Homo sapiens: one gene and its partner. The protein of the gene in region 1 binds, or shares a complex with, the protein of each later gene. Each region holds a gene or a part of one and is shown on either strand. Other genes may lie near its edges.

Region 1 (7,650 bases):
TTGGAATCCCAGCAGCAAAACTCTAGGAAATGGAGGCTTAAGCTTTCTAGCCATCTCAGCACAGAGAAGCTTATTTGTGAATGGGGCTGGAACATACGCCAAGAGAACCAATATAAGGCACAGTGTTCTTAACTCTATGTTCACTAGCTCCTCAATATTTTTCTGTTCTCCTCCTTTCAGCCTACCATACACCACTGTTACCTAAACCTGGATGAAACTTAAGACTCTGCTTGTGCCCCAAGTTGCTCAGTGATGCTAGATGTAAGATGGGGAAAGAGAGGAATCTCAAAACCTAAACATATTATGTCCTCCAGTCTAGTGCTGTTTTGGTTTACCTAAATTCTTTAAAAAATAATTTTATTACTCCCAAATCAGCCACCTCCCCCATACCATAAGGGCCTATTATAAATCTTCCCCTATTCATCATTTTTCTTATTTTAGTCTTCCTTCACAATTTCCAGTCTCCTACTTCAGGAAAGAAACACAAATCCTCATGAAAGAACTACAGTGAATTATCCTTTCTCTCTTAAATTTATTATATTTCCATTCTTTCCAGATAATCTAAGATTTAACCTTCTTCCTCTATTTGTGATTTAACTCTGCCAAATCTCCCTATTCCTTTCTTTATATATATATATAATAGATGATACAAGCCAGTGTGGTCTTAGAATCATATTGTCTGTGTTTGAACTCCAAGTCCGCTATTTACTAGCTATGTGACGTTGAGTAATCCCTGGCCTCTCTGAATGTTATTTTCTTATCTGTAAAACAGTGATAAGATTACCTTCTTCAAAGGATGATAGGGAAAATTAAATGAGAGAATCCATATAAAATAATTGAAATATGATCTACGCTTAGGAAGCACTCAATAAAATTGACTATCAGATAGATACAATTCAACTATGAAATACAGGCAGAGAATAGAGAGAGCATTTATGCAAAGAAAAAATCTGTTTATTTTAAATCATATTGATGGTGGTGGTACTGAGACAACTATATGTGTAGGTGGGATAAATCAAATGAGTAATTATTTTATTTTCTAATTCTATCTATCTTTCCATGTTATCATTGAGAACCAGTATTCCTGGTTTGGCAAACATTTGTATAATTGGTCTGGTACATCTTGTCAAACCATATAATAAATAAACCATCAAGGACTACTAGCATAGTCTCAAAAGTGTTCAGAACTCAACCAGAAGAGGCACTGGCAAATGATCATCAATAAGTATAGTAAGCAAAATTTATCAAAATGCCTCAAATATATGTAAATCCAATAATTCACAATTATCCCTTTTAAAATCCTTATTTGTCATGTGTGTAGGATTCTAGGGAACCAACTCATTATTTTTTAAAGCTCCTAAATAACACGAAAGAATCAAGCACTTTTCCTGCATTTCCTTTGCAATCTATATCTGAAAGTAACAAAACTGTTGAAGGTAAATTTTTTGGAACAGCACTCCAGTTAATAAAAACAGAAAGAATGACAGAAGTGCAATATCACAATTTTGCAACCTCTAATGATATGTCTCTAAACAAGTATCAATAATTGTGGCTAACTGTAAAAAGAGTCACAACCCGACCTCATGTGCCTCTTGATGGAAATAATCAAAATTCCCTTGAAGTATTCTTGTTAAAAAATTGCACCTGAATCTGATCAAGCTCATAGATTTAATTATTGATAAACAGGAAATACAGAGAACAAAGGAATATTCTAAACTCTACCATAGACATACAGTCAGCAAAGCTGAGAATGTAAAAAAACAAAAAAACAAACAAAAAAACCTCTCTACCAGTCACATCATCCACTTTCCTCAATAAATAAATGACATGAAAAAGGGGAAGATAGGTTGGGTATCCAGAGATAAAAAAGACTTAAAAGAAATATCAAAAAAGCAGGCCAAATTGAACTGTAGTGTCTGAGTGTACACATTTGTGTAATAAAACTATACGGAAAATCGTATAGGTTATTACCATAAATGTCACAATAGCAGTTACATTGAGAGGTGGAGGAAGTCATTTGTGATTGAACAGGGCACAAGGAAGCCTTCTGGGCTGGCTGGCAAATTTCTCTTGACTTGGATGGTTGTTACAAGTGTGTTTCCTTTCTCATAAGTCAATAACCTATAATTTTTAATGTGACTTTCTGTGTTTGTGCTATATTTTACAATAAAAAAGATTTTTAAAGGAGGAAAAAGATTGAATTAAGCAATGGTTGGATATCACCTACACTCTTTTTTAAATTTTCCTCTTTGGTGAGGAAAATTCTCTCATTTACTGATGAACTCTTAGGCAGAAAGACTGGAGACAAGCATCCCATCACACAAACCAAAAGATTTTTGTCCAAGGCCAATCTCTCTGGACACAATCTGGTCAGTGCTTCTCTCTCTTGCGTTGAACTGCCTCCCCTGGAACCTCATGAATGATGGATTATGAGGACATTCACAGACTATTTCTGACTTCTCCTTTATCGTTCTAACAGTGAAGTATCCTCTGTTCTCTGAGATATCACTAAGTAGCAGTCATACCAATATGTTCATGACCAATGCATTCGACCCAGGTGAAGGAAAAATCCCAGATGTCTCCTGCTTCCTTGCATGAATTACCTTATGTGAACACGGCTGCCAAAACCTTGACAGGTTCTCCCAGAAATGTCCATTCTAGGTTCACACAATGTCCAAGAAGGCTCCAGCACTTGTGTGGAGGGTCTCTCTGCACATTCTACCTCTCAGTTCTTCCTGTTTATTGTGAATAGGTGTGCACATTCTCTTTATGTCACTGTAAATAATTAATCCATAACCGGAGGCAAAAAGAATGAAGGTGTGGAAACAGTACAGAGCTAGTATAATAGTGGCAGCCCCAGAGTGAAAACATCAAGGGTCCAAGTCTGTCTTTTTTCCTACCCCTAAAGTCTGGAGAACACAATTCTCAAGTTATAATCAGGTACTTGGTTTTATAATATTTTGCTTTGTTGTTGGATTTAAATATCCAACTATGAGGCCAGGCGTGGTGGCTCATGCCTGTAATCCCAGCACTTTGGGAGGCCGAGGCAGGTGGATCACCTGAGGTCAGGAGTTCAAGACCAGTCTGGCCAACATGGTGAAACCCTGTCTCTACTAAAAATATATATTAAGAAAAATTAGCTGAGCTTGGTGGCGGACGCCTGTAATCCCAGCTACTCAGGAAGCTGAGGCAGGAGAATTGCTTGAACCCAGGAGGCAGAAGTTGCAGTGAGCTGAGATCATGCCACTGCACTCCAGCCTGGGCAACAAAAGTGAAACTTTGTCTCAAAATAAAAAAATAAATCCATCTATGTGACACCATCTTGTACTAAGCAGATTGTTTGGACTGAATAGTCTTTCTAGGTATGTCACAAAACCTGAATTCATAAAAGCAAAAGGTGACAGATTTGAGTACATGAAGACTAAAAACAGATTCAGAGAATAAGTTTGTATTTTCTATGTCAGTTTGCACTAAATTAATTTACAAACAAGGTCGCTGAGGCTTTGACTCAACTGTTAACACTTTCTGAGAGTGAGATTCTTTTGATTAGGGTCTTAAGGTCTTTGTTCATCTCAGAAGTCTTAATTGGTTTAATTAGGCTGACACCTACAGCCCTGTCTCATTACCATAAACTGTAGAGGGGTTCAACATGACACTGATTGTTTCTTAGAGCAAAGCCAGTGCAGTGAGTAGGATTCCAGGCCCCCCGGAATGAAGCAGGAAAACCCGAGGCCTGTGGATGCAGGATGTACTAGGGAGGTGCTGGGGAGTAGTGCAGATAAACCCAGAATTCAGTTGGTTGGTAAAACAAGAGTGATCTGAGTCCTGTGCTTGTCTACGTGATCCACCATTGAATGGCAGGCCAGCCATTGTGCAGGCATCTGCATATGAAGTGACTGGAAGCTTCACTGGAACAAGGATCTCCTTGGAAATTCTCTCCCCTCAGACAGCCAGGGTGCTTAACATGAAAAGAAGTTGTAACCCTATCCTTAAACTATAGAAGCCATCAGCAGAAGTTACAGGCTTATGGGGGCCCACTGGAAAGGGAAAATCAAAAGGCCTGTGGATTTCAAATTAATGAGTGATCTTAAGTTGCATTTCCTAAGTTCGGCTACAGACTCATATATTTCATGAGTCCCTCCCTACCCATTCCTTGCCTCTCCCTTCAGTTGCTGGGTTTCTGAATTTCTGTATAGTTAACCCTTATCTTGCCTCCCATTTGTTCAATAGAAATGATCACTTTTACTTGAATCTTTTGGTAGAATTGTATACCATGTGTTCCTGTCTAGGTTTAATCATCAGATTGTGGTCAAATTGCTCTGCCAGACTGTGTGAACAAAAAAGTGAATGGAAATTTTCGTTTTAAAAAATAATACTTTTGGACTTAGCCCGTGGCTAAGAAGAAGTAAGGAAGCCAAGCGTACGGATAGCAGCGAGGGGTCAATCCACGCCCGGCGTTGGGTCGGGGGTGGAGGAGTCGGAAGTGGTTGGGGTTTGGGGGAGGAGATCCGCTCACACACAAGAGGAGAGTGTTGAGCCGCCATATCTGCTGCTGCCGCCGCAGTTGCGAATGCAGCATCGGCGCTTAGCTGCCTCCGCGGTGCAGCTAAGGTTCGTGTCGCTACCCCTTGGCCCTTCGCTCTTGCTGCCTTAACCCCGCCGGCGGAGCCCGCTCTTCTGGCCTGTTGAGCCCGCTCCCTCACTGCCACACAGCAAGTTCCGAGACCATGGATTCGGGCAGCAGCAGCAGCGACTCGGCGCCCGATTGCTGGGACCAGGTGGACATGGAATCCCCGGGGTCGGCCCCGAGCGGGGATGGAGTCTCCTCTGCGGTGGCCGAGGCCCAGCGCGAGCCCCTCAGCTCGGCTTTCAGCCGTAAGCTCAACGTCAACGCCAAGCCCTTCGTGCCTAACGTACACGCCGCGGAGTTCGTGCCGTCCTTCCTGCGGGGCCCGACTCAGCCGCCCACCCTCCCGGCCGGCTCCGGCAGCAACGATGAAACCTGCACCGGCGCGGGATACCCTCAAGGTAAAAGGATGGGACGGGGGGCACCTGTGGAACCTTCCCGAGAGGAACCGTTAGTGTCGCTTGAAGGTTCCAATTCAGCCGTTACCATGGAACTTTCAGAACCTGTTGTAGAAAATGGAGAGGTGGAAATGGCCCTAGAAGAATCATGGGAGCACAGTAAAGAAGTAAGTGAAGCCGAGCCTGGGGGTGGTTCCTCGGGAGATTCAGGGCCCCCAGAAGAAAGTGGCCAGGAAATGATGGAGGAAAAAGAGGAAATAAGAAAATCCAAATCTGTGATCGTACCCTCAGGTGCACCTAAGAAAGAACACGTAAATGTAGTATTCATTGGCCATGTAGACGCTGGCAAGTCAACCATCGGAGGACAGATAATGTTTTTGACTGGAATGGTTGACAAAAGAACACTGGAGAAATATGAAAGAGAAGCTAAGGAAAAAAACAGAGAAACCTGGTATTTGTCCTGGGCCTTAGATACAAATCAGGAGGAACGAGACAAGGGTAAAACAGTCGAAGTGGGTCGTGCCTATTTTGAAACAGAAAGGAAACATTTCACAATTTTAGATGCCCCTGGCCACAAGAGTTTTGTCCCAAATATGATTGGTGGTGCTTCTCAAGCTGATTTGGCTGTGCTGGTCATCTCTGCCAGGAAAGGAGAGTTTGAAACTGGATTTGAAAAAGGTGGACAGACAAGAGAACATGCGATGTTGGCAAAAACGGCAGGGGTAAAACATTTAATAGTGCTTATTAATAAGATGGATGATCCCACAGTAAATTGGAGCATCGAGAGATATGAAGAATGTAAAGAAAAACTGGTGCCCTTTTTGAAAAAAGTAGGCTTCAGTCCAAAAAAGGACATTCACTTTATGCCCTGCTCAGGACTGACCGGAGCAAATATTAAAGAGCAGTCAGATTTCTGCCCTTGGTACACTGGATTACCATTTATTCCGTATTTGGATAACTTGCCAAACTTCAACAGATCAATTGATGGACCAATAAGACTGCCAATTGTGGATAAGTACAAAGATATGGGCACTGTGGTCCTGGGAAAGCTGGAATCCGGGTCCATTTTTAAAGGCCAGCAGCTCGTGATGATGCCAAACAAGCACAATGTAGAAGTTCTTGGAATACTTTCTGATGATACTGAAACTGATTTTGTAGCCCCAGGTGAAAACCTCAAAATCAGACTGAAGGGAATTGAAGAAGAAGAGATTCTTCCAGGATTCATACTTTGTGATCCTAGTAACCTCTGCCATTCTGGACGCACGTTTGATGTTCAGATAGTGATTATTGAGCACAAATCCATCATCTGCCCAGGTTATAATGCGGTGCTGCACATTCATACTTGTATTGAGGAAGTTGAGATAACAGCGTTAATCTCCTTGGTAGACAAAAAATCAGGAGAAAAAAGTAAGACACGACCCCGCTTCGTGAAACAAGATCAAGTATGCATTGCTCGTTTAAGGACAGCAGGAACCATCTGCCTCGAGACGTTCAAAGATTTTCCTCAGATGGGTCGTTTTACTTTAAGAGATGAGGGTAAGACCATTGCAATTGGAAAAGTTCTGAAATTGGTCCCAGAGAAGGACTAAGCAATTTTCTTGATGCCTCTGCAAGATACTGTGAGGAGAATTGACAGCAAAAGTTCACCACCTACTCTTATTTACTGCCCATTGATTGACTTTTCTTCATATTTTGCAAAGAGAAATTTCACAGCAAAAATTCATGTTTTGTCAGCTTTCTCATGTTGAGATCTGTTATGTCACTGATGAATTTACCCTCAAGTTTCCTTCCTCTGTACCACTCTGCTTCCTTGGACAATATCAGTAATAGCTTTGTAAGTGATGTGGACGTAATTGCCTACAGTAATGAAAAATTAATGTACTTTAATTTTTCATTTTCTTTTAGGATATTTAGACCACCCTTGTTCCACGCAAACCAGAGTGTGTCAGTGTTTGTGTGTGTGTTAAAATGATAACTAACATGTGAATAAAATACTCCATTTGAAACTCTTCGGTTATTTGAAATGCTTTTGAATAATGTTTAAATGTCATTATGTAATGCTATTCAATTAGCTTTATTACTTTCTCAAATAGTTGAATATGTTCTATCACTTAAAAACTTAAAAACTCTTCACCACTTACTGTTTTAAGTGAGGAATTTACAAACAATGCATAAGTGTGTATTAAAGGAATAATTTTAATTTTGAGAAAAAAACGTATGTTAAGGCTCTTCCCAGTGGGCTTTGTTTTCTCTGTCCAAGTCCAGTCAATAAAGGAGCTCTTCTGCTTCCCCACTTGTGATTTGAAAATGAAAGGCTCAGGCCGTCTTTATTTGTATAGCAGTAGTTCATGTAACATTATCCATAGGTTCTTGAAGACTACAACATTAAGCAAAACAATGTACAGCAGGTGTACATCGTACAACAATGCACAATGTATGACATTGTTCAATGTTGTTATGACATTGTTCAATGTTGTTATGACATTGTTCAATGTTGTTATGACCTTGTTCAATGTTGTTTAGTTATGACATTGTTCAATGTTGTTTAGTTATGACATTGTTCAATGTTGTTTAGTTATGACATTGATAAGGGGAAAAATTCATTTTGTTAGATGTTATTTCACT
Region 2 (7,296 bases), on another chromosome or scaffold:
TGCCAACATACTTCCCTTTATTCAGATGTAGTTAGTGAGCCCATTTTGCAGGTGGTTCCTTTTTCAAGCTACATTAAATTTGGGTCATATATCAAGAGATAACCACATAGGATTATCTTAATTTCAAAATCACTCTTATTCTAGCATATTTTAATAACTACTGTTAAAAACAAATCCATGATTCCTATGCCTAGAATTCTACACTGCTAAGGGGAGGAAAGGGCTTTTTCATTTCCAAAACAATACTGTTACTCAACCACTAAGTCTCACTACCTTGTCCTAATAACCATGCCTGAAAACCTCAGTTTCCTCCTGAAAACCAGAGTATCCCCAAAACATCAGCAAATACAGATTCATTTTGCCATCCACTTAAGTCTTTAAAGCCCATTACAATTCTTCTAAAGATATTTTATCACTAGGTAAAGTAGGAATAACATTTTCCACTGTACCCTATCTATGAAAATCTAGAGTCTGACTTTAACACAAGTTGGCAATGAAAATATTCCCACCTCCAAAAACTGGTATATACTGGGGAATCTTCTGACTCCCTTACCAATACTCAGAGATGGCCAAGATTTTAAATTTCCATGGGATCAAGATGCAACCAAATCCTGATTAAAAGCAAAGTAGGACATGATTATTAACCACAATGTGTAGCGGAAGGTCCTCCAGCTATTTTAGACAGCTTAATCATGTCTGAAATATCCAAACTCAACAACTTGAAATACAAGTTGTGTCTTATAACTTCATTTTTAGCATGCTTTAAACTTTACTGAACTTTGCTAAACAAAGAGGTAAAGCCTTCAAAAGCCTTAAAGAGGCGCTTAAAAGTTTCTAGTGGCTAGGTAACATGGGTAGAACAAATTTAAGAATGAGTTTCCTTCATTAAGCAGTAGAAAGGAATGCTGTTACTTATTAAGCAATGTCATCTTCAATGTTACTTCATTCAAACAGGCAAATTATAGTCATGATTTAATTTTTTGGACTGTTTCAGAGAATATAACGTATGCAAATTAAAATGTGTAAACCTGCCTGCTACTGAAAGCAGTAAGAACAAATCCAGAGGTCACATCCACCTATATACAATACTGCAACAACAGCAATCTATAAAATGCAATACTGGATTGAAGGCTTCAAGTAACAAAACAAGATCCTACTGAAACAAAAGAACCTGGCTAATTCTTGGTAGTGCAACATAATGGGTCGTGACCTATGTTACCCTTTCTGTACAGTATTCTCACATTTTGGGAATAACTGGTCACTCTATCATACGGCACAAGTTCCTGTAAGATCATTAAGAAGGTCTGGATATTCTATTGAATTCAAAGAAAAACCTAAGGACTAACAAGCCGCTGTCTTCGATTCATATTAAACTAACGTTTCTCCAGTAAACCGAAGGAGTGAGCACAAGCCCGTCACTGAATGGGGCCAAACTTTTAGAAGCCTCATTCCAAACAGAACTGTCCCTAATTTATTAAGAACAAAACACTAGTAAAACCAACCTGTGAATTGGGCCTTCAGTACAATTAAGCACATCCTGTTTCATATAACAGTAATAATGAAGAGCTTGGAGGGGCTGTCATTCTAAAATTGCAAATCTACCCATAAATGACAATCCTGGGCTGGAAACCAGAATGTCAAATTCTTGTGCTGAAATCAACTTTTCACATGGCCTGAGGCAGGCCATTCTACTATTCTAAGAATGCTCAGACATACAAGTATGTAATAATGTTCCAAACACTTTTTTTTGGGGGGGGGGGCACTTCCTGTAAGTAAAAAGTTTCTATGACTGGGAAAGGAACAAAATAAAGTAATAAAAGAAACAGGAATACCCCTGGCACACCTTCCTCAAACGAACAACGTTAAAAAAAAAAGAAAACACACACACACAGCTAATTTTAATCTAGCCTACTCTCCCCCCAATGGACACACCTACAGTTTCTTATCAAAATGTACAAGACTCAAAGCCCATTTAATTCAATTATGAATCTCACTCAACAAGCATCAAGCACATCAGGCGCCTCTCTACAGCGATATCCCCACAAGTTTCAGAGAAATGCCAGCAGGGACTCTGTAGTTATGATTCCTATCAAACGGCCCCCTAACCCGTATTTCTCCTGGACATACACATGCAGATTCATTAACCAAAACCTACCCAGCACCCCTCACATCGCGCGTACGTTGGCATTTTCAGTTTATAGGTGGGTCCTGGAACAGCTAAAACCAGGAAGCTCCGGGGTAATTAGAGGACTTGGGAGAAGTCATCTTGGGACAGGTGGAAGACCCAGAGAAATCAGGAATCAGAAAGAAGCTGTCCCTGGCCACCTCTGCTTCCCGTCCCATCCAAACTTCACCCACCCGGGTCTCAGAAGCCCAGAAGGGAGAGGCCATTTTAATGAGGCCTGGCTGAGAAATGAAGGGAGAAGAGGAAATCAGGGAAGGGCCCTGGGAAAGGAAGGCCGAACACTTTGCCACAATAGCACCCGAGTCGGGTGGCAGCACCTGGAGCCCGAAGAGGGAGGACCTGGACTTAAGGGCCCGGGAGAGGTGCAAAAGTAGCGGTGGCCTACCACGAGGGGGGCCGAGTGATCTAAACCGGGGAGCGCGGGCCCCTTACCCCCATGCGGGGAAAGGACCCCTTCTCGGGCCAACCGCGCCGACCCTCGCCCCTGGGTCAGGGGCTACTACCCAGAGATCCAGAAGGCGGGAGTTGGCTAGTGCCTGGTTCTCCTCATCCGGCCATGCGGCGCGGGGGCGTCCATCCTGAGGGGTCCGGGAACCAAGAGGGCACGGAGGGTGCCGGACGCGGCGCTCACCCGCGGGCCGCCTCCAAGCTCTTAATGAGCTTCTTGATCTTCCAGATCTCCACGTTCCTGTCGGCAGCACTGGGGTCGTCCGCCATCTTCTCGCCTCCTCCTCCCTAGAGCGGCCCGGCGGGGCCCGGAGACACCAAGACCACAGAGTTAGCGCCGCCGCTGGGGCAGAGCGGCCCCCTTCCTCGCCATCCCCCAGAGGCCCTCTCCTCCCGTCCGGTGCAGCTCGCCACAAAGGTCACCGGCCTTTCCCTCCCTGTGCCTTACCTAAGGGCCCAGTCCTGGGCGGCAGCGGCTGCTCCTCCCCGGCGGCGGCTCCGCGGCGGCGGCGGCTCTGACGTAGGACACCGGCTCCCTCTCTCCAGGCAGCTGCATGTGTTGCAATCCGCTCACATGGGGCCTGTGACATCACTTCCTCCGCCAGGGGCGGAGTGGAAGGCGGCAGGCGGAAGGGAGGGGGCCGGTGCGAGTGAGGAGAAGCTGGGCGTCCGCCGCGACTTCTCATTGGCTCTCTGCCCCGCAGCCTACAATGAGCCCGCCGATTGGCTGCAGCTGGGTCCGCGCCGCCTTGTGAGGTAAGGCTGGGGGGTGGGAGGTGCCACCTTTCTTCCGGCCCGGCAAGGCGAGAGGAGGAAGCGGGCGGAAGCCGGTGGCTCTCGCGAGTTTACTGAGAGCCCCCGTCAGGCTCGAATGGGGGTGGTTCTTAAAGAGAGAGGACCGGGGTCGTCGTCTTTTCAGTCCATTCTCCTTGAATAGGGTGGACATCTGAGGCTTTGCGACTCGAAGCTAGGCACTTGGGCCCGACGCGCGGTTTGAACGGTGCTTGAGAAGCCGCGAAGAAGCGCCTCGCGCTCAGCGGCTTCTTCGCTGACGAAGTGCTGCGGTCTGCGTGCGTCATGGCTGCACGGAATAGTGTGGAGGAGTCCTGGCCAGTAGGTCTGGATGAGGAACCTGCCTCCGGGCGGTCCGGGACCCTCACCTGCAGGGGCGAAAGAGGCCTGTTTTCTCTCGCCCCAGAGCTAGGACGGGCTCACTTTGGACTTAGAACTTTATGGGGTGGAAGACAGCGGGGGCTGCCTGAGCTTGGAGACCTGAGGTATCTGGTCCCATGTATGATTTGGCCTGAGCCGTTGAGAATGGGGGTGGAGAGAGTTGAAACAAAATGGGCATCCACATACGGTTAGAACTTTATCTTTTTGAGTTAGGATTTTTAGGTGGCTACTTTGTCCCCCCTCACCTCGTCTGGGTTCAAATATTGAGCCCAGACCGTGTGCTGGACCCTGTTTTCCTGGGGATACAGAGGTGAACCAAACAGATGACAGTACTTACCCTTATGGAGCTTATAGTCGATTGGGTTTTTAAGTTTGTGATTTTATACTTTTTGTAATAAAATAATTACACAAATGCTTAAGTACTTCAGGGTGCTCTGAGAGTGTATGGCGGGGACCCAGCTCTGAAATGAGACCCAAAGGATGATTAAGAGTTTGTCAGGAGGAAACAGAATACAGTTGAGAACTACAGAAACGCCAGTGTGCTGGCACAAGGTCAGGGACGGGGAGAGTGGTTTGAGGGAGCAGCAGGGGAAGAGGTCATGTAGGGTCTTTTAAGCCAGATTCAGAAGTTTGGTTTCTTTCAAGAACAGTGGGTAGTTTAAAGGGTTTAGAGCCCTGGTGTGGACTGGAGAGAGTACAGGAGAAGCCCAGAGACCATTTTGGCTGCTTCATTATCATGTGAGAGATGATTTTCGCTTACATTAGGGTGGTGACAGTGCAGATAGAAGTGAATGAAGGGCCTGGTGCAGTGGCCCACGGCTGTAATCCCAGCACTTTGGGAGGCCAAAGGGGAGGATCGCTTGAGCCCAGGAGTTTGCGAGCAGCCTGGGCAACATGGCAAGATTCCGTCTCTACAAAATTACAAAATATTAGCCTGGTGTGGTGGCCCGCGCCTGTAGTCCCAGCTGCTTGGGAGGCTGAGGTGGGAGAAACCCTTGAGCCGAGGAATTCGAGGCTGCAGTGAGCTGAGATCACACCACTACACTCCAGCCTGGGTGACAGAGCGAGACCTTGTCTCGAGGAAAAAAAAAAAGTGAATAGGACTGGATGATGGATTGGTTGAGGAAAACCAAGAATGGTTCCCAGAGTACTGAAGTGGTGACATTTACTGAGGTGGGAAAGGTGAGGAGTAGGTGTTGGGGGATGATTGAGAATTTCATCTTGGGCCTGTTAAGTTTGAGATTGCTTATGAGACATGTAAGTAGGGATGTCCGTCATGCGCTTTCATTTGTATGGTTTTTGAATACTTTTTGCATGTGTTATAAACTGTGTCCACACTTTGAAGATGGGGGTATGACCTCCATTTCATACATGGGGAAACTGAGGCAAAGAAAAGTGAAAGGGATCTGCTCAGAGTCCACAGCTAGTTTATGGCTTCCCGACTCCATTTTTGGAGTCCAGTGTATTATACAGTGACCCCATTACCTGTATTTTCATAGGGTGGGGACACGGTCATACTTCTGTCCCCCAGGAAATGAATCTCAGGTTGGAACCTCTTCTTTGGGTTCCATTTTGTAGTTTTTGGCATATGTTTATTTGTTATATAATATTGTACTCCTGCTGTGTGTGTGTCATTCACTGTGTTTAGTAGTGAACGGAGGGGTCTTCTTAGTCATAAACACTGCTTACTGACTAGGAATCAACTGTGTCCAAGGTTTTCCTTCATTCCTCTTGCCCTGGTTCCTCCTTTCTATATTAGATTGCCCTACTCTACCCTTCCTGTTCTTTTTTTTTTTTTTTTTAAAGACGGAGTCTCCCTTTGTCGCCCAGGTTGGAGTGCAGTGGCACGATCTTGGCTCACTGCAACCTCCACATCCCGGGTTCAAGCGATTCTTCTGCGGCAGCCTCCTGAGTAGCTGGGACTACAGGCGGGTGCCACCATGCCCAGCTAATTTTTTGTATTTTTATTAGAGTCGGGGTTTCACCGTGTTAGCCAGGATGGTCTCGATCTCCTGACCTCGTGATCTGCCTGCCTCGGCCTCCCAAAGTGCTGGGATTACAGGCGTGAACCACCATGCCGGGCCAGTTTTTGTATTTTTTATTTTTTATTTTTTTTTTAGCAGAGACAGGGTTTCACCATGTTGGCCAGGCTGATCTTGAATTCCTGACCTCAGGTGATCCACCTGCCTCCGCTTCCCAAAGTGCTGGGATTACATGCGTGAGCCACCACACCTGGCCTCCTCTTCCTTTTGATGTTTGTGTTTACAGCATTGCTTCAGGTCCATGCTTGAAGGCTTTCTTCTGTGTGATTCAGGCTGAAGTAAGCATGACGACATCCCAAGTAGGATTGCTGTTTTCAGCCTCTGAATTCTTAAAACTTATTTCTTAGACAATTGCAGGCCCAGGTAGCCCCAAAAGCTCCTTGCCTAGTTGCTGCAAATTCACCATCTCTGCATTTAGAATTAGAAATCAGTGCATTAGAGGCAAAGGCTGGGATAACTATCTACGTGAAGAGGTTTGGGATGTATGAAGCACGGATGGTAGTGCCTGCATCAAGGCTTTTTAAATGGGACCATGACGATTCATTGTTGAGGAATGTTCTGTGATATAAAAGTGATACAGATTTTTCAAACTGCTAAATGGTGAGAACAAAATATATAACCTCTCTAGGCACACAGATTCTCTGAAAAATAAAGGAATTGTTCTTTATGATCTCAGAACTTCCTCCTCAGCTCAAACATTATGTAACAAAGTTAAATATTGGGATATAGGTGATGTTCCTACCTAATTAGGTGGGAGTAGGCAAGTAAGTTTTTGTTTCATTTTCTTTTTTTTTTTTGAGGCAGGGTCTCACTGTTGCCCAGGCTGGAGTACAGTGGTACGATAATAACTCACTGCAACCTTGACCCCAGGACTTAAGCGATCCTTCCACCTCAGCCTCCCTAGTAGCTGGGACCACAGGCGTGGGCCATGATGCCTGGCTAATTTTTGTATTTTTAGTAGAGATGGGGGTTTCACCATGTTGCCCAGGCTGATCTCGAACTCCTGACCCCACGTGACCCACCTGCCTCAGCCTCCCTAGTAGCTGGGACCACAGGCGCAGGCCATGATGCCTGGCTAATTTTTGTATGTTTAGTAGAGATAGGGGTTTCACCATGTTGCCCAGGCTGATCTCGAACTCCTGACCTCACGTGACCCACCTGCCTCAGCCTCCCAAAGTGTTGGGATTACAGGCCTGTTATAAGTTTTGATGTTGAAAGCACAAATAAGTCTTTGTGCTTAGAGAGAACTGGTCTCTACAAAAACAAGAAAAAAAAATCAGCCAGGCACAGCAGCATGTGCCCCTAGTGCCAGCTACTGAGGAGGCTGAGGCAGGAAGATCACCGGAGCCCAGGAGTTTGAGGTTACAGTGAGCTGTGATCACTGCACTCCAGCCTGGGTAACAGAGCAAGACCCTTTCTCAAAAAAAAAAAAAAAAAAAAGCTACAGAA

The links.
Region 2: GSPT2 (region 1) and ETF1 share a complex: the UniProt entries of both Homo sapiens proteins name them as parts of the eRF1-eRF3-GTP ternary complex.

The regions. Positions count from the first base shown.
Region 1 is NC_000023.11:51,738,900-51,746,549, forward strand, and holds GSPT2 (eukaryotic peptide chain release factor GTP-binding subunit ERF3B), read left to right. Parts: upstream 1-4,542; 5' UTR 4,543-4,727; coding exon 4,728-6,614; 3' UTR 6,615-7,333; downstream 7,334-7,650. UniProt on the Homo sapiens protein: GTPase component of the eRF1-eRF3-GTP ternary complex, a ternary complex that mediates translation termination in response to the termination codons UAA, UAG and UGA.
Region 2 is NC_000005.10:138,540,017-138,547,312, forward strand, and holds the start of ETF1 (eukaryotic peptide chain release factor subunit 1), read right to left. Parts: upstream 3,221-7,296; 5' UTR 3,081-3,220; intron 2,928-3,080; exon of another isoform or gene 2,921-2,927; 5' UTR 2,903-2,920; coding exon 2,817-2,902; exon of another isoform or gene 2,618-2,816; intron 1,696-2,617; exon of another isoform or gene 1,547-1,695; coding exon of another isoform or gene 1,503-1,546; intron 1-1,502. UniProt on the Homo sapiens protein: Component of the eRF1-eRF3-GTP ternary complex, a ternary complex that mediates translation termination in response to the termination codons. The eRF1-eRF3-GTP complex binds to a stop codon in the ribosomal A-site.